2 separate regions of the Homo sapiens genome follow, and region 2 is linked to region 1. The links come from fine-mapping of genetic effects on gene expression. Tissue or cell type: whole blood. Region 1 holds a variant in brackets; the other region holds the start of a gene. All regions are shown on one strand. Distances are from middle to middle.

Evidence for each region. PIP is the estimated chance that this variant, and not a neighbour inherited with it, causes the effect.
Region 2: DYNC1H1 starts here. The variant in region 1 is fine-mapped to the expression of DYNC1H1 in whole blood (TOPMed, PIP 0.98).

The regions. Positions count from the first base shown.
Region 1 is chr14:101,892,183-101,903,141 of GRCh38, reverse strand. It overlaps PPP2R5C (protein phosphatase 2 regulatory subunit B'gamma), which reads right to left. Exons shown (of 16, transcript NM_001352913.2): 9 at 10,034-10,142; 10 at 8,582-8,635; 11 at 1,253-1,423. Among named protein-coding and RNA genes, the nearest start is that of DYNC1H1, 67 kb to the left of the region's middle. The variant C/T (reference allele first, on the strand shown) is at 4,916.
Region 2 is chr14:101,959,549-101,968,899 of GRCh38, reverse strand. DYNC1H1 (dynein cytoplasmic 1 heavy chain 1) reads right to left here and starts at 4,327. Exons shown (of 78, transcript NM_001376.5): 1 at 3,953-4,327. The coding sequence starts at 4,208. RefSeq lists silencers at 3,635-3,844, 4,335-4,494, 7,439-7,615 and enhancers at 3,370-3,979, 3,980-4,590, 4,635-4,774, 7,457-7,516.

The DNA.
Region 1 (10,959 bases):
TCCGTGGCGCTGGTCTCTACAGTTTCTAGGAAACCATGCTCCTTTGTGCAAAGTGCTCACACTGAAAGCCTTGAGAAACATTATTTTCTCTGTAGGCCAGGATTGATGAAAAAAAAAAAAAAAAAACCCAAAACATAATTTTCCTTTCTTAGTTCCTAATGTGAAAACTCATTGGAATTTATAAAATGAAAATAACCTGAATATTTGTATGGAAGAGACTACACCACAGCAGTTCCTTCCTTTAACCCGACTCAGCCTGGCCTCACTTTACTATGGCTGCCCGTGCTCCAGAGCTTCTTACTCTTCTATCACTTGCCTTCTTGTCTTAGTTTTGTTGGTTTCAATGATCTCTTTCCAAAACCATCTTGAAAGGCTCAGTTTGGAGGACCCCTCATTCTTGTGGACTTTTTCTAACCACTTAGACTTGTGCTAAGGTAACTGCCCATGTGTTTCTGAGAGCCTGCTGCACACGCCACCTGGCCCTTCACGTTTGGCTGTAAGGTGGTGGTGTGACATGGTCACTCTCTTCCACTGTGTGGCCTGCTCCCTGGGCACCGGGAGGTCTTGCTTATTTTGTGCCTATTTTCACCTTGTTCATGATGAGTGCACAATAAAATCCGCTCAATGATGCAAAAGGACAGGTGGCTAGCACGTCCAACAGAGGCAGGCAGGCTGGGAAGGTGTGTGGGGGTGGCCTTCAAAAGAGGTGATGAGCCGAGGCTGGCTTGAAGGGTTAAGGAAATTGGGAAAAGAAAGTAGAAAGTAGCTCTGACCAAGGTCGTCCTCTCGCACAGGAATTTGGCAGTGACAAAAGTCAGAGCTCTCAGCCTTTTTGAAAGGGTAAAGGGAGACAGATTTACACAGTGTCAGGAACGAAGGGCCTCGGCAGCAAGAGCATCTCAGAGCCGAGGCTTTGGCCACCCGTTGTCTATCAATATTGATGCTCAGGTGTGGAAAGGAGGGTGTTTATGAACTTGGAAGCACACTGAACATGAAGATAAAGACAGCTTTACAGAGAAGCCAGATGACTGCTCTTAGTGAGAAAAAGTATCGCGGCAGAAGGGACAAGATGCTCAAGGGTATTCTATAGAATTCAAGTTACAGCATCGTATTTGAAGTATAATTCAAGTAAAAACTTGGATTTTACCTTTAAATTGCATGAGAGGCAAAGCATGGCCAGCTACGCATGGAACTTTTCCTTTCCCAAATGAACACTGGAAGAATTTAATCAGGTCCCCCAAGCCCCACATACCTGGAAGTGTGGGCTGGAGACACATTTGGCCAACTGCCGGAAGAGGGGTTCCATGATCTTCACAAATTCTGATGGTTCAATGACATCTAAAATCTCTTCTAATTCGTTTAAGAACATTACTTCTTTTGGACTGTGAGTCTTTGGCCAGTATTTGAGAAGTGCCATCACCACCTACAAAAGAAATGACACGTGGAGTGACTGATGCCCACGAGGCCCCAACACCTGCATGGTAAGAAGTCTGTGTTTTCACTGCGGTGGCCCCACTGCAAGGCAACACACGGAGATGGTGCCATCTTCCTTACAGAGGGAACAGTGACTCAGTCATCATATGTGATTTTCTGTATTTGAGAAGTAGGTCTGTCTGTCTGGTTATCTATCTGATCAATCAATTTATTTAGAGATGGGTCACATTATGTTGTCCAGGCTGGACTTGAACTCCTTGGCTCAAGTGATCCTCCTCTTTCAGCCTCTGAGTAGCTGGGACCACAGGCACGTACCACCTGCCTGGCTTAATTTTATACACTTCAGAAATTACACAATTTTAGTTTATATAACCCACTTTCTCTGATCAAACACCATTTCAGTAAGAGTCCATTCCTTTTTTTAAAAAAAGAAAAAAAAATAAGAAGTTAGGACAATAATTTAGAAAGAATAAGATCAACGGAGAAAACACAGAGCATTATCAATTCATGTGTACATTTTAGTTGTGGAAGCAGCCAGTACTGAAACTGTGGGCCACGTGTACACAACCCATTTCTTTCTCAAATTTATCAACCATCCATATGTGTTTATACACAAACACACATACTTCTGTATGCATAGACAGTGTTTTCAACTGTGTTAAAATATATCAAAAGGAGTGATGTGAATTAAGCTGACCTTATTAACTCACATCCACAGGTACTGCGATGGGACCTCCCGGGCAGGGCGTACTGTGCTCTCTGTGCGCACACCTGTGGGCGTCAGATACAACAGCCTGAGCAGTGCTGGGCCTGCGGTGAGCAGGCTGCAGTGGCAGCTGTAGCCAGGATTGTCACCACCCAGAGGGTCTGTGCCACCAGCTCTCTGCCAGGCACAGCCCGTCGGACTGCAGTGGTTTCCCAGTTTGTGGATAGTGGATGTTTTATGTTCCTTGGCCAAGTCAGACAGCTAGAAAGAATTTCCACTGGGCAACCTTTCTTTATATGTTCCTGTAGTTTCCAAATGTCTTACCACAATCATACCAGTACAAAATACTGAATGTGAATCCATGCAGATTTCATAATATTTTTAGAGTTTAGCCATCTTAGTTCTAAAAGAGTACAACAATCCAAAACAGGCATTTGCATATGAAGTGCATATATGTGCTTACACACTGAATTGTACAAGTGCAATCCGGTGCGTTAGAGCAGCTCTTTGGCCTCGTCACAGCAACACCGCGGGGCTTCTACCCGACTCTTGTGCTGTGCAATTGCCACAAGTGCTGGCCCCCGGGACCGCCTGGTCGTTTTCACTCACTAGTCATTTCCAGCTCAGTAGATCGCACCAACTCATGGCTTAGCAGGCCAGCCTTTTAGTCATTACAGTGATTTTTTAAAAAGGTGGACATTTAACATCCATTTAGAAAAATTTTGTTTTGATGCTTTGGCATTTGGGCTCCCAGGTAATCTTTTATGATATTACACTTTATAAAACTCCAAAATTCATGAAACAAAGGAAAGTAAGGCTGGGCGTGGTGGCTCACGCATGTAATCTCAGGACTTTGGGAGGTCGAGGTGGGAGGAATGCTTGAGCCCAGGAGTTCGAGACCGACCTGGGCACCGTGGTGAGGTCCTGTCTCTACACAAAATTTAAAAATTAGCCTGGTGTGGTGATGGGCACCTGTGGTCCTAGCTACTCGAGAGGCTAAGGTGGGAGGATTGCTTGAGCCCAGGAGGTTGAGGCTGCAGTGAGCCATGACTGCGCCACTGTACTCCAAGAATCTAACAAACAAACAAAAACCCCAAAAGAGCCAAATAAAAATAAAAAAGGAAGTGCTGCTAGTTTTCAAGTCTGACATAAAAATCTACCATACAAGTGTCTTTAAAAGGAATTATTTCTAAAAATGCATCATTTAATGGTTCTCCTAGCTCAAAACTATTGAATAAGTATTTATTGTGTTCCTACCACACTTTGCGTGTATTGGAATCACTATTAAGGACACAGCAGATGGAAATCACTTCCTACATCTATTTCTCTTCATTTGTCAAATGGAATTTTATTAGGAGAAATATGTTAATTTGTGAACTATACAACACAACCGATTTAGCTATTCCATTTCTCTGGAAAAGGTATCATTTCTGGGATCGGATTCACACACGGGCCTTCCTGTTCACATTGTTTGGAATGAGCTGTGATCGGTATCAGCTATTTTGCTGCGTCAGTGTGGCGTGCTCTGTGGAGGAGGGTGTCTACTCAGGGAATGTGAATCCGAGGCAACAATGGCTGTGTGCTGCTGGGTGCAGCACAAGGCCCCGAGTTTTCCTTTGGAAGCCCAAGGACTGCCCGCTCCCTGCAGAGGGCAGGCGAGCCAGTGGCCCCAGCCTTGAGTCTTGGGGAGCCCCCTTCCTGTCCTGGTAGACCAAGGAGAAAGGAGAGCCGCTACTATGCCATGTAGTAAAATGTGATGAGACTGAAGAGGCAGGTGGGTGAAAACGGAACACAGTTTTACTTCTGTAAAATCTCTGATGAGCTTTTGTTATTCTTCCAACAGAGAAAGTGTTTCATGTGCCCAGAAAGCTTTTGAGCACTGTACACAATTAGCAAATGAAAAATACTAATTACAGGCTACAAATGGGGCAACACATGTCCTTCATATCTCAGTCTTCTAAGTGGATCTTACTTTAAACATTCCTGAGCCTGGACATTTGATGGCTTCAGGAGTCCCTTTGGTGCAGGCCTGGGAGATGGACGTGGACACCAGGTGTCCTTAGTGCTACCAAGAGATGTACACCTGCACCAAAGCCTATACTTTGATCATCTCATTAACAAGCTTTCAATGCTGAAATAAGACAAAATGGCCTTTGTGTTTTCATAAATAGGCATTTCAAAAGAGGGAATTTACTGACATGAGGGTCTGAATGTTCTTAACATGTAGGAAATTGAATCTGCTTTCTAAAGCCAGGACGGTACTATTACATTATCTGTGCAGCAGGAAACTAAGCAATGAAGTGTCCCCGGGTGGGAACATCGGGGCCTAGGTTGGTGGGGTTTGCACCTCCTTTGTGCTGGTGCCAAGTCAGAGTCCTGCATGTAACATTTACGCCGGAAGGACCCAACTGAAGCCGGCACGGGGTCTCTTGCCCTCTTTTAGACAGGACTGCAATTAACAGCTCTCACTCTTGCAAAGTGATATTCACTTTATTTACTATATTAGTGGGAATTAAAAACTTTTACAAACATTCTCTGCTTTTGTGTTACTTTTCGGTGGAAGAGAGAATAGGGTGAGGCTCATTCACCGAGCCCTCGGTGGAGAAGGTTAGGGTCAGGCTGACAGACAGTGGATGGCGGGATAGAGATGCTGGGACAGTGGCTTAGGTGGGAGCAGCCTCTGTCTGTGGTAAACGCAATGTGGCATTTGGTGAATTGTTCAGCCACTACAGGATATGAGAAATACGCACAAAGAAAATTCATGAAAGAAAAATA[C/T]ATACTTTCAAAAATCTCTCCTTCCATAGCTTTTTTTCCCTTCCATTTGTATTTACTTATTTATTTGAGACAGGGTCTTACTCTGTCACTCAGGATGGAGTGAAGTTGGTGCGTTCATAGCTCACTGCAGCCTTGACCCCCTGGGCTCAAACAACTCTTCCACCTCGGCCTCTCGAGTAGCTGGGACCACAGGTACATGTCACCATGCCCAGCTAATTAAATTTTTTTTTTTTTGGTAGAGAGGAGGTCTCACTATGTTTCCCAGGCTGGTCTCAAACTCCTGGCTTCAAGGGCTCCTCCTGCCTTGGCCTCCCAAAGTGCTGGGATTAGGGGCATGAGCCACTGTGCCCAGTTGTCTTTTATTTTTGAATAGGAAAAGGTGGGAGAGGAGGGGAGAGATAAATTTTTTTTTTTTTTTTACATATTACTTTCTCCAGTAAAACCTCTGTGATAGTTAATACTCAGTGTCAACTTGTTTGGATTGAAGGATGCACTGGGTGTGCCTGTGAGGGTGTTGCAAAAGGAGATTAACATGTGAGTCAGTGGGCTAGGAAAGGCAGACCCACCCTTAATGGGGGTGGGCACCACCTAAGCTGCCAGAGAGGCCAGAATATAAAGCAGGCAGAAGAACGTGAAAAGACTAGACTGGCCTAGCCTCCCAGCCTGCATCTTTCTCCCGTGCCGGACGCTTCCTGCCCTCGAACATCGGAATCCAAGTTCCTCAGCTTTGGAACGGGCCTGGCTTCCCTGCTCCTCAGCTTGCAGACGGGCTATTGTGGGACCTGGGTGACAGAGCGAGATCCTGTCTCAAAAAAAAAAAAAAATACAACCTCTCACCCTTCAGTTTGGAGAATACCTCAGATATAGGCAGAAGAGTTAGGGCATGTAACCACTGGAGAAAATACAGTTTAAAAAAAAAATCCCCAATGAGTTTTATTAACACTGTTCATTTTTCTTTTTCCTACCTAAACATGTCTTCAGTCGTTAAGAAGGATAAAAATAACACCTCCTCACCCTAAGCCTTGACTATGCTTGATGCTGAAGTGTGATGAGATTTGGTACATTTCCTTGGGAGGTCCCCAAAATCTCAGGCGGAGGTATCTAGGGGCTGGAGGGAGAGTGTGCAGGGATGCGTCCTTCCACGAGGGCCCGGCAGGACAGGGCGGGCCCAGCTCGTGGCTCTGTAGCACCTGCTACCTCTGCAGTCATAGGACAAGAGCTCTTCTTGAATTTTGTGGGTGAAATGGAGGGAATCTACACATAGAATTTAAAAACTTACAAGAAAGCAGAGCCCAAAAGCCAGTTTAACTCAGAAATTCAATGTTAAGAATTTCTCATGCAATTTCACTATAAAAATTACAACTTCACAAAAGAACTGTGAAAGAGAGAAAGGGCCCAGGAGTGACAAGATCTACTTTTTCTAGTCTAACAGTGACTTTTAAAAGAGCATTCAAACATTTGAATTGGTTCCTAACATTCCTTACTTTGATACTCAAATAATTAAAAAAAAACTCCAATGTAAAAAATGGGCAATGGATTTAAATGGACATTTCTGCAAAGAAGATATACACTTTTTTTTTTTTTTTTTTTGGAGACAGGGTTTCACTGTGTTGCCCAGGCACACGCCATCATGCCTGGCTAATTTTTGTATTTTTTGTAGAGATGGGATTTTGCCATATTGCCCAGGCTGGTCTCCAACTCTTGGGCTCAAGTGATTCACCCGCCTCAGCCTCCCAAAGTGTTGGGACTACAGGCGTGAGCCACCGCGCCCGGCCAAGAAGATATACAGATTTTGGTCAACAAGCGCTGAAAAGATGCTCAACATCATCAGTCATTAGGGAACTGCAAATCAAAACCACAACAAGATACTCTTTCACACCACTAGGATGGCTATAATTAAAACAACAGGTCGGGTGTGGTGGCTTACGCCTGTTATCCTAGCACTTTGGGAGGCTGAGGCGGGTGGATCACTTGAGGTCAGGAGTTTGAGACCAGCCTGGCCAACATGGTGAAACTCTGTCTCTAATAAAAATGCAAAAATTAGCCGGGCATGGTGGCAGGCACCTGTAATCCCAGCTACTTGGGAGGCTGAGATAGGAGAATCGCTTGAACCCAGGAGGCAGAGGTTGTGGTGAGCCAAGATTGCACCATTGCACTCCAGCCTGGGTGACAGAGTGAGACTTTCTCTCAAAAAAATAAGATAAAATAAAATAAATAAAAAGAAAGCAACAGCAGCAGCAGCAGCATCAGCACTGGTGAGAATGTGGGGAGATGGGAGCCTTTGTGCATTGCTGCAGGGAATGTAAAACGGGACAGTCACTGTGGAAAACAGTATGGGGGTCTGTCCCGCAGCTAAACATACAATTACCATATGATTCAGCAATTCCACTCCTGGATATATATCCAAAGGAACTGAAAATGGGGATTATAGCAAATATTTGTACACCAGTATCCAAATAGCAGCATTATTCACAATAGCTAAAAGGTGGGAACAACCCAGGTGTACACTGAAAAAACAATGAATAAACCCAATGTGTTCTATCCATATGATAGAACAGCATTCAACCATGATGAGGAATGAAGTTCTGATACGCAACCCAAGAATGAGCCCTGGAAGACATTACGCTGAGTGAAATAAGCCAGGTGTGAAAGGACAAGCGTTTTATGATTCTCCTTATATAAGGTACCTAGAATAGTCAAATTCAGAGATAAAGTAGATTACAGGTCAGCAGGGGCCAGAGGGAGGGAGAACGGAGAGTTATTGTTTAATGGGTAGAATTTCTGTTTGGGATGATGACAAAGCTTTGGAAATAGTGGTGATGGTTGCGCAACACTATGAATGTCATTAACGCTGGTGAACTGTACATTTAACGCGGTTAAAATGACAAATTTTATGTTATATGTATTTTACCACAATTTAAAAAAATTCAAAATGTAACGTATCAAAAATTTTTGAATTGTACTCTTTAAATGGGTGAATTGTGTGGTATGTGAATTATATCTCAATAAAGTTGTTTCAAAAAATGTATTTAAATGCTTAAACTGGCACCTGACATGTCTGGCTTTGTTAACCCTGGCTATGATAGCCTATTTTAATAAACATAAAATGTTAAGAAAATTATAAATCCTCTGACATAATTATGGAGGCTGAAAAAAAATTACAGATCCACGCACAGAACAGCAGTAATCTAACGTTCACTTGTGATTCAATGATCATAAAATAGTTACAGTGTAACTTGGGAAGTATTTTCAAGGCGGTAAAGCCTCTTTAGTACAACAATAATTTCAAACCCTAACTATAATTCCTCTGATCATAATCAGTTCAATATGTTGTCAAACCAAGCAGATGTGAAACTACTGAATTGCACACTAAAATTTAGTGGCTACAATAACCGCTCAAGTGCTTTACGTTCAAACAGTAAAGTGCAACGAGGGACAAGGTGGCAATCTCATTACATAAAATAATCACTATAATAAAGGAATCTGCAATTAAAATGACTATACTTTGAAAACCTATAACCCATGAATGAAATGAGCCTGTTTATTAGTATTGCAATTTAAGATGAAAAAGTCTGAATGAATGGCAATTTGGTGAAGCAGATGTTGTAATATTTACATTTAGTGAAATGCACACATCTTACAAGACGCGCTAGCATCAGTACTTACTGGTTCCGTGAGGGTGCTGTCCTTTTCTAAAAACTGCACTACACAGTATGCCAGCTAAAAAGTAAAAGGAGAAAGAGCATTAACATTTCAACATAAAAATGCTGCTGTGCTTCTTCTAGAATCATCGTTAAACACCTTCCCACAGCAAGACAAGGACCCACGGTACAGACAAAGCCCTTGTGTGATTAACGGGCATTAACATTTATGCCCATTAATTGGTGATAGATCAGAAAGCTGAAAAATAAAAATAAGAAAAATAAATCAGGAAACAGTCTTTTTAGTCTAACCACCGCTAAGTCAATCCAGTATGATGGGATTTTCTTGGGGTCCTTGTGCAGACTACAATCAACGAGTCATCTAACAGTGGGGAACAACAAATTAAAATCTGGTTCCATCTTAAATCTCTGAACTATTAATTTCTTTTGTACAACAATATGATAATCTGGCTGGATGCAAAGATATTACCAGTTAAGAGCAGTCAGAGAAAATAAATATGTTCTAGGAAGAATCAATTAAAGAATATACTTTTTGTCATTTAGCCCCTACCATAAGCTCTGAAAGTGGGGCCTGGCAGAGAGGAGCCTTGTGCACCCCTGTGCCTGTGCTGGGGCGTGACTGCTCAGTGCCTGGCCCTGTGACAGCCGGAAGTGAACAAAGACGCCCACTGCAGCCAAAGAGTGAGAGAAAACCAAATCCAGGTAAATGCAGTCCATTAACCACTTATTGACCAATTTTTCAGTACAGCTGTACTTAGATTACTACAGTTTAAAAAATTCACAGCTTTATTCATTCATTTATTTATTTATTTTTGAGATGGAGTTTCACTCTTGTTGCCCAGGCTGGAGTGCAATGGCGCGATCTCGGCTCACTGCAACCTCCGCCTCCCGGGTTCAAGCGATTCTCCTGCCTCAGCCTCCTGAGGAGCTGGGATTACAGGCATGTGCCACCATGCCCGGCTAGTTTTGTATTTTAAGTAGAGACGGTTTTCTCCATGTTGGTCAGGCTGGTCTTGAACTCCCAACCTCAGGTGATCTGTCCGCCTCAGCCTCCCAAAGTGCTGGGATTATAGGCAGCTTTATTTTTTTAAAAAACGTTTTCATAGGCCATTCATTGGCCATGGACCTATATAGGCTTTTCTCTTTAAGGTACTGAATTTTAGATTACACTACAGAAAACTCCTCTCAGAAGTCTTCCTAGACTCCTTTCAGAGAGTTACTCCTTTCTCAATGCTTAAAACTGAAAAATTCTGTATTACAGAGATTTTTCTGAATTTCTTAAAAGGAATCTCTCTTTACCCCCTTATTCTTTCGATTATCACCAGAAGTTTGTTACCAAAGTTAGTACAGGCCTATAAAGAAGAAAGCACTCTCAGTCAAGGCCGGATTCACTATCTCGTGTTCAATCCTGATCAAATGCCAACAGCTGTGTTCCTAGAGTCCTGCTGCCCCTTACCTGGGGATGGTAGACACTCAGAGATTTCACTTTGTGCAAAGGTAGTAACACCTTCAATAAGAAAATCTTGTGCTCTTCTTTTAGTGGTAAGGCAAATCCATTAATTATACTGTAAAAAGAACATTTATTAGGTTTGAACATTTACGAATTCCAGGTTTTAAACAAATATCTTGCCGTCTTTCAATTTTTGTTTTCACCATCAAAACCCAGCAGGCAAAATATACGTAGCCAAGCATGTTGCCATGCACCTGTGCCCCAGCTAACTTGGGAGGCTGAGGCGGCAGGATCATCTGAACCCGGAGTTCGAGGCTGTAGTGCGCTATAATCACACCTGTGAAGAGCCACTGTTCTCTAGCCTGGGTAGTATAGCGAGATCCTATATAGGGGTCTGTGGAACACTTCATATAGTGCTCCGGTCCCTGCAACAGCCTAAGAGGGAAATCCGAGGATTCTTCCTATATATATACATATGTGTGTGTGTATGTGTGTGTGTATCAGAAAAAAGAGGATACCAGCAAAAAGTTTAAAAATGCTAAATGCCTACCAGGAAGTATAGTTATTTTTATCTTTGTAACTACATAATTTAAAAATTCTGGGTTTACAGGTGTTACCCAGAACAGCAGGGAGCTGGCTCAACAGCAGGAGCTCCTGGTGGCAAAATCTTCCTCCCTAAACAGGCCAGGAAGACGGGACAGTTCACGTGGGACCCCCCCCACCCCCCACCCAACACCTTCCCTCAGCCTTATCCATCTGGTAGGCATTCTTGCTGCCTGGAGTAATTCAGGTATGTTATTCTAATGTTGGTAACAGAGACCCAGTGGATGCTGGATGAGAGCTGGTTAAAAATCAGTTAGGGCCAGGCGGTGGCTCATACCTGTAATCCCAGCATTCTGGGAGGCTGAGGTGGGTGGATCACCTGAGGTCAG
Region 2 (9,351 bases), 67 kb before region 1:
TAAACTACATTTCTTCATCCTTTAGAATTAAATCCTCAGGCTGGATGTCATGGCGCACGCCTGTAATCCTGGCACTTTGGGAGGCTGAGGTAGCAGGATCACTTGTGTCCAAGAGTTCAAGACCAGCCTGGGCAACATGGGGAGACCCTGCCTCTACAAAAAATACAACAATGAGCCAGGCGTGGTGGTGTGTGCCTGTAATCCCAGCTACTCAGGAGGCTGAGATGGGTGGATCGCTTGAGACCGGAGGTTGAGGATGCGGTGAGCAGAGATTGTGCCACTGCACTCCAACCTGGACAACAGTGAGACCCTGTCTCAAAAAAAAAATTCCAAGTCTCAAACACTGGAGTGTTAAACAAACAAACACGTGGGGTGTGGTAGCTCACACCTGTAATCCCAGCACTTTGGCAGGCGGAGGTGGAAGTATTGCTTGAGCCCTGAAGTCCCAGACCAGCCTGGGCAACATGGTGAGACCTCCTCTCTATTAAAAAAATGAGAAAATGAACTGGGAGCCCAGGAGGCCGAGGTGGCAATGAGCCATGACTGGGCCACTGCACTCCTGCCTGGGTGACACAGTTGAGACCCTGTCTCAAACAAAACAAAACAAAACAAAACCCTTTCCCCACCAAAAACAAACAAAAAACCCAAACTACACGCTCTCATCCAGACCAACCAACCTAGCAGCCAATCCCAGGCAGGTCATGAACAAGCTGCAGAGCAGACAAGTCATGGAAATGTCAGTTCCATCAGCTGCAAACTGAAGCATACCCCACCGAACGGAGATACACAACCAAAAAATGGTCCTTGAAGTAAAAAATGCTACAAAAACGTCATTAACATAAAATGGCTAGTTAAGTAATGAGCACCTATTTTGTCACCATGCTGTAAGCATACTATGAGGAAGACAATTTCCTACAGGCCAGGAACTATACAAAGGTTTCTCTTTTTAAAATGAGGAGCTATAACTTAATCCCTTTTTCCCACAAACTCTCCAATTCCTCAGTATCAAGATGAGTTGTTAAATTCACAACATTTATTCTATACTTTGAGTAATGCTGTACTTGATTTATTTTAGAGATAGGGTCTCACTCTGTACCCAGGCTGGAGCAAAGTGGTGTGATCCTAGTTCACCACAGCGTCAAACTCCTGGGCTCAAGCAATTTTCTCAAGTAGCTGGAACTACTGGCATACACCACCATGCCTGGCTTATTTTTTAATTTTCTGTAGAGATAGGGTCTTGCTATGTTGCCCAGGCTGGTCTTGAACTCCTGGCCTCAAGTGATCCTCCTGCCTTGGTCTCCCAAAGTGCTGGGATTACAGGTGTGAGCCACCGCACCCAGCTCAATGCTGCACTTTAACAACAAAAGTTTATGGCTAGCTGGGGTAGCTAAAACAAACAAACAAATAAAAAATATATATAGTTTCACATAAAAATGTTTCTATATTCAATTACAAGTGTTTGGATACTTCCACAAAAAAAGTGGAAGGAATAAAATAAATAAAAGTAATTTCTACTGTTCATTAAATTACATGACTTCATTGTTGGTGATCTTTATTCAGTTTAAATAATTCAGCTCTGTTGTCTACATTAATGCATGCCTATCTTTTCACTGTAATTAACTACTGGATGCACATATTTGATTAAATGTACAAATGCCAAAGCTAACTCATAAAAGCCACCAAGAAGAAAGCCCTCCTACCAAAAGTCCTGGGTCTCTACTTATATCTAAGGTGTCCTAGTGTAGCCAGGCTGCTAATAAGACAAACAGACCATCTATCATAAAACTGGATTAATTTAAAAATCTTTCCTTAGGTTTTTGTAAGTGAAAAATAAATTATAGACAGGTTGAATTGGTAGAAATACTTCAAGGATTGTTATAAATACAGAAATGAGGTAGGATTTCAATTTTAGATAGTCTCATTCCTTAGTCAACTTTCAAAAGTGCAAGTCATTATGGAGCCAAGATTTGGATACCTGCATATTTGTTTTGCTGAAAGAAAAAAAGGTACTCATAAGACAACAGAGAGAATTTGTAGTAGATATTGTACTACATAAACATAGTCCCCCCACCCCAATAATTTTAGCAACGTCCAATTTTAAGATGCCTGGAAAAAGCGAATTACTGGTGATCACTCTAGAAGCAAAGTATAAAACTTAAATTTTTTTTCATAAAAAGAGTGACACAAGGTAAAAAAAATAAAATCACTGATTCTAATACATAAACTATGCAATAAAAATATCAAGGATTAGCAATGGTCAAGCTACTCAAAATACAATTAACTTTAAAAATGCAGATTAAAATGTATTTTAATAAAATGACGAATATGCATTGAAAAATGACCACAAAGACATAAACCAAAAATGCTGACAGTGATTATATCTGGGTCAAACAATTCCCAGTGATTTTTACTTTAGCTGTATAGTACATTTTCTACAATGACTATATGTTTTTTGGAAAAAAAAAAGAGTAGATAAATTTTTTTTTTTTAACTTTTGTGGCTTCCACTTAGGAATACATAATCCCAAACATCACAGTAAACAACCCTCAAAAACATTAATACTCTAAATATGCTCAAATGGTTTATTTGCCTTGAACATTCCACGTGGATATAAGAAAAAAATATTCTTTTACACCCTGCTAATCTCTGGCAGGAAACCAAGGCTACAGGGAAGCATCTTCTGAGTAAGAATAGCCTTTGAAAGAAACAAACCATCAGAAACACAGTGTGTGTTAAGGATGGGGCAGACAGTACAGGGTCTCTCACTGAGAGAACCATACAGTTTTTTGAAATTTTAAGAAGCTTGTTGGCAAATATTTTTAGACAATCTCCAATCCCTAGAGGCTAACCTTGGACATCATCCTTAGGTTCTTAGATGGACACGCCACACCCAAAGTGGTTGTAATGGGCTACAAAGTGGTTGTAATGAATCCATGAGAAAGCCTGCCTGCAGGCAAGCCCCAGACTTAGATGAATGTAACCTTGCTGGTGGGCGATCATTATTTGAGGAGACAGCTGGAACACGCTAACTCTAGCCTCTTCCCCCTACTAGGTGCCTAACCTGAATCTTTTTTTTTTTTTTTAATCTGTAAAATTAGACTCAAATATTACAGGGTTATCATTAACATCATCGAAGCATTAAACAAATATGAGGTATGATCAGTGAAAACAAGCAGTGGATGGGGAGCTGAGACACTGAGTCTAGTCTCAGGACTAAGATTAGCTGGTGACCTTGGGTGAAATCACTTAACCTGAGCCTCAGTTTCCTCAGGTGTAAAATCAGGATACACCCGTTCAGCAAGGATGCTGTGAGAGCATCCACCTACAACAGTGATGCTCGCAGGCCCGGGGCTGGCACCGTCGCTCTGTGGGCCTCGGCCTCTGGGTCCCCACAAGGCAGGGCTGGGACACCCGCCCGACCTCCTCCCGAACCAGAACCCCGGCTGCCCCCAGCTCCGCGGGTCTGCCCCCGACACATCCCTCCCGAAGGCCACTTGGCTTGGACACAAATCGAAACCGAAAAGCTCATGTGACACTGGAGGCAGGGATGCGGCCTCGCCCGCTCTCAGCCCAGGGAGACGCTGTCTCCACCCAACTCGGCCATCTTGAGAGGCCCGAGCAGACAAAGCGACCCCATTGTTTTGGGTGACGGCAGACGGGGACCCCTTTCCCCTCCCCGCGACCAGGAGCGGGGCGCCCTGGGGGCTCCGGGCCGGGCAGTGGGTGTGGCGAGGGCGAGCCCCGGGCGCCGCGCCGGCCTCTGCGGGGCGTCTGCGGCCCTGGGGACCCGGCCGGCGGGACGTCTGCGGCCGCCGGGCTCTGCCCATCCAGGGGTCATCTGCAGCTGCCGGGCTCCTCCCATCCCGGGGACATCTGCGACCCCGGAGGACCTGGCAGGCCCTGCATTCCGCGAGGCCTGGCTCTGGCGACCCTGCCCTCCGCGGCCCCGCACCTTTGAGCGTGGAGCGCTCCACCAGCACCGTGTGGACCTGCGGGTCCGAAAGGAACTTGCGCATCTGCTCCAGGGCGCTCTTCTCCTCCAGCGCCGCCTCCAGCGCGGCCGGCGCCTCGCCGCCGTCCTCCAGCAGCAGCGGCACCAGCTTGCGCAGGTGCTTCTGCAGCACCGACACGTCCGCCACATTCTGCACGGCCGACACTTCCAATCCGGCCGAGCCGTCCTCGCCGCCGCCGCCCCCGGGCTCCGACATGGTGTCGCGCTCGGGACCTTCCAGGAGCGATGAGAAGGCGGCCGCGACTCAGCGAGACAGCCAGCAAGAGACAGAAACGGCCGCCGGAAGCCGGACCGTCCGCTAGCCCACCGCAGACTGAGGAGAGCGGGAGCCGGCTCCGCCCTAAAGGCAGCCACTGCCAGGTGGCCCCGCCCCGCCCCGCCGGCCGCAGCCGCCGCAGCCACCCGCGCTCGCTCGCGGCCTTAGCGTCACGGCGCCGCGCGTGCGCGGGGGGCGGGCCCGGCGATGTCGCCGCGCGCCCTTCTGGGACTTGTAGTCTCGGCGCTGGTCGGGGCCCGCAGCCTCCGCACTGCGAGTCCTAGGAGATGGGGACTTGGCTCAACGTCCTGGCTCGGCGCCCGGGCTTGGCGAGGTTGGTCAGGGGCTGCGTCTGTCTTCTTCACTGCTGTGGACGCAGCGAATAGCACACAGCCAGAGAAACTTTATAGTGAATCAGTGATGTTATTGGCGAGAGCTAACGTTTAGTGAGCGCTTAGCCTGTGCCCGGCGTTGTTCTAAGCCCCTTAACCTCTCATTAAATGTTCTCTCATTGAATGAATGAATGACTACGTATCAGGTACCAAAATATAGGCACGACAGATGTGTTATTAGATATAGACCGGGAGATTGAGGATACTTTTCAGAGGGGGAGGAGATGAGGGGCGTGCTCAGAGAGTCCCATTGCCAGGCTGGAAACGGACAGCTGGGGAGGGGGCCTTCGGGGCAGTGTAAGGTTAAGCCAGGAATGACACCTTCACTGTACGTAAAGCCAAGCTGTGATGGGATCTGGTTCCTAATGACAAAAATCATTGTCCCCGAGGACGCTGTGAGGACCAAGAGGGAGACCTACTGAGAACAGCTACCTCCAGCAATGGCTCTCCTCCAGCCCCCTAGAGCTGGCACTGTCATTCTGTGGGCCTCAGTATCTGGGTCCGTACAAGGCAGGGGCTGGGTTGCCTGCCCACCAAGTTTCCCCCTAGTTCGGACCCACCACGACCTCCTCCCCTACACCATGACTACATAAGAGCCAGAATCCAGGCTGCCCAGCTGGGTGCGGTGGCTCACACCTGTAATCCTAGCATTTTGAGAGGCTGAGATGGGAGGATTGCTTGAGGCCAGAAGTTCCAAGACCAGCCTGGTCAACCTAGCGAGACCCTATATCTATGTGTATTTAAAAATTAAGAATTTTGTAAAATAATAAAAATAATAGAATCCAGGCTGCCCATCTTTGTAGTTTAGAGATGGTAGGTTCTTCTAAGGGGTAGTAATTGGCCTTTGAAAGTTCACATTCATAACTTCTTTCTTAAGTTGGGTGGAGAGAGGGAAGCCAATGGCGTTTTTTTTTTTTTTGGTTTTTTTGTTTTTTTTAAACATCAAAGTGCACTGTCAGAGTGCCGAGTCCTGATTGGTGGAATGATGATGGTATGATTTGATTCTCCCAAATCATCTTTGAAAAACTGTGAAACATACAATAAGCTTATTCCTTGCCTAATTACCGGTTGCTGGGTCCCAGGGGGTTGCTGGAACACGGAGACTAATCAGATGATTCTTGTCTTTAAGGAGCATGTGGAAGAGGGGACAGATGAATACCCCATCTTCCTGCTCTCCATCAGTCCGCCCTGGTGTGATGTGCCTAAGCAGTTCCGAGTAATCTTCCTGGAAAAAATAAATAGGCAACTGCGATGAGTTTGTGCAAGGATCCTAATGGTAATGAATAATAATAACACACCACTGACAGCGAACGCTGAGTGTTCACTGCGTGCTAGGCACCATGCAGAGGGTTTCCCCTCACATGTACTTTAGGGGTAGAAAGAGGGACAAAGAGGAAAGTCTATTAGGTGCAGATCTGTGAACTCTGAATAGGCCATCCACCATCTGAGACTCAGAAACCTGCAGGGACCTGGCCGATGGGCAGGCTGCATGCTGGCTGCACCATGAGTCAGCACCAGACTGGGAGACGCAGCCACTCAGGGATCCAAGGGACTCAAACATCTGCAACCTGGCCCCAGGCCAAGAGAACAAACTGCAGGCTCCGGATTTGCGGCCCTGTAGGATAGGCTCAAAATGAAACATGTTTGTTATTTCTAAGTGGATGGGAACTGAAAGAACCCGAACAATCAGTGTACAAGGATTCATGAATGGACCAAACATGCTTGCTTTTTGTTCTTGAAAGATGTTTGTTGTATTTAATATATAACGAGAAGAGTGGTCAACGCTGACTGGGTGCTGAGCACTTTAAGTGCATTACCTGGGTGGCTGGCTGGGCTGTGCCAGGGTTGAAGGGTGTGGGGAGCTTCTTTCAAGGTGCCCCTTCTGCCTCCTGGCACAGGACTCTGGCTCCAGCACACCCCAAGCTGACCCTGGTGGGGGTAGGGCCCCTCACCCAAACCTGGCCTCTCCCGTCTCTTGTTCTGCTGCCTCAGCTTTCTCCTGTCTGTGGTAGAGTCTGCTTGGACAGACTCTGGGCAGGGCAGGGGGCAGGGCAAGCTGGAGAGAGAATTCGTTCTAGGTTGATGTGGGATGATAGTGGCTGGTAGGGCGCTTGTATCCTATTGGAAATCCATGATGAGATCCCATTCATTCCCACCCTTCTCTTAACAATGTCTCCTTAAGTCCAAGTCTCAAGTCGGGTGCCCAGTTTCATACCATCCTTCCTCTCCCTCTCACAACCTTCGGGCAGGACCAACCCCCTCAGAGGAACCCCTGCTGCCCCAGCCCTTTCAGGCTCTGTGCCCAGGATCTCCCCTCCACTCCCTGGAAATTCCACATTTGGCCAGGTGTGGTGGTGCACACCCTTGTTCCCAGCTACTCAAAAGGTTGAGGTGGAGGTCGAGGCTGCAGTGAGCTGTGATCTCACTACTGCACTCCAGCCTGTGCAAGAGAGTGAGACCCCGTCTCTAAATAATAATAATAATAATAATAATAATAATAATAATAAATTTAAAGAAAAAGAATTTCCATCTTGGGCTCATTCGTTCATTCATTCATCCCCACTTGTGAGAGCAGGGAGGTCTAAGCTTCTCGGGATTCTCAGCACCAGCGGGGCCTGGACCAAAGCGTGCACTTGGTTGGTGGGTGTGAAACTAATGCCTTACCCCGAGGAAGGGGCGCTGGCGGTGGCCGTGGGGACACGGGGTGCACTGTGGATCAAGACCTTCCTGGCCACATCTCTGGGGCTGTCAGGGTGCTGCTGGAGGGCAAGGCTGGGACTTCACAGGTTCGCAGGGCTGCAGGACGCTTTCTGAGGAAGCTCATTCCAGGATCCACCCCCTTTCTGTCTTGATTCCTTGTCAAATGAGCCTCAGGGTGAGGCTTGAACCAGATCTGGTTCCTGGAGGCTTCGACCCCAGCAGGTTGGAGTTTGAAGCGCGTGGTGAGAACGGAACGGTCTCTTGGCGCCGTCTAGTGGCAGCAAAGGATGTGTCGCATGGAATTTTCTTCTGCTTGTAGGGGACCCACCTCCCCAGCCTGCTGCCCATCCATCCTGGTGACAGCAGGCTCACCTGCCCAAGGTCACCTGGCTTGCTTGTCCAGGGTCACAGAACAAGTAATGACAATGAAAATGCCAGCATGCACCCCACTGCCCATGGGGAAGATGTTAGTGAATCTTGTCTCTACCTGGGCAGACAATTCCCACCTGGCTCTCCTGACCCCTGGATTAACCCAGGCTGCCTGCAGACCCTCAAAACCTCTGACACCGCCCTGGCCCTTCCCTCTGGTAGTGTGTGGCCCCTTCTCTTACCAAAGGCTGTCGGTGTCCCCAGCCAGGACCACTACTCCCTGGGTGTGCTGCCTCCATCTCCTCTCAGGGTTATCACCTCTGAAATTCTCCCCTCGCTCCCAGATGTTCTCTCTCTCTCCTAGATTTTTTCCACCGATGTCTGAGCTATTCTATCCCTTCTTTAAAGGAAAAGAAGGAAGCCCTACCGTAGCCCACTGCCAGCACCTCTCCACTGCTTTGCTGCCCTTTCCAGCAAAACTCCTTGAGAATAAGCATATGTGGGCACTGCCTTTCCCACCCCATCCCCACATTCATGGGCAGGCACTCTTGGCAAGGTCACCAGTGACTTCCGCGTGGCCAAATCCAGTGACTAGTTCTCAGTCCTCATCTTGCTTGACCCGTGGACACACTGATGCAGCCGGCACTCCCTCCTTCTCTGAACACCACCTTCACCTGGCTTTTGGTGGCCGCACTCTCCAGATCCTCCTCGTCACCAAGGTTCCTTCTCAGTCTCCTCTGCTGGATCCTGCTCTTCGCGACCTCTGAAGGTTGGAGGGGCCCAAGGCTTGGCCCTCAGGCTGGTTTGTGTTCTATCAGCACGCCCTCTCCAGCGCCCTCTAGCCTTGGATTTTCTTTTTTCTTTCTTTCTTTTCTTTCTTTTTTTTTTTTTTGAGATGGAGTTTCGCTCTTGTTGCCCAGGCTGGAGTGCAATGGCTCGATCTCCGCTCATCGCAACCTCTGCCTCCCGAGTTCAAGCGATTCTCCTGCCTCAGCCTCCCAAGTAGCTGGAATTATAGGCATGTGCCACCACACGTGGCTAATTTTGTATTTTTAGTAGAAACGGGGTTTCTCCATGTTGGTCAGGCTGGTCTCGAGCTCCCGACCTCAGGTGATCCGCCCGCCTCAGTCTCCCAAAGTGCTGGGATAACAGGTGTGAGCCACCGCACCCGGCCCTTTTCTTTTTTTTTTTTTGAGACAGGATCTCACTCTGTCAACCTAGCTGGAGTGCAGTGGCACAATCGTGGCTCACTGCAGCCTCGACCTCCCTCCCAGCCTCAAATAATCCTCCCACCTCAGCCTCCTGAGTAGCTGGGACTACAGGCACATGCCACCACACCTAGGTAATTTTTGTTTGCTTGTTATTTTTTGTAGAGATGAGGTTTTGCCAAGTTTCTCAGTCTGGTCTCAAATTCCTGGGCTCAAGGAGCCTCCTGCCTCAGCCTCCCAGAGTTCTGGGATTACAGGCATGAGCCACTATCCCCACCCAAGCCTTCCTTGGATTTTCAATACAGCCATGCCTTGAATCCCAACCTTAGAAGGCGGTGTTCTGCTGTTGTTGGGTGGAATGTTCTAAGAAATGTCAATTAGGCCATGTTGGTTGACAGTGTTCAAGTGTTCTTA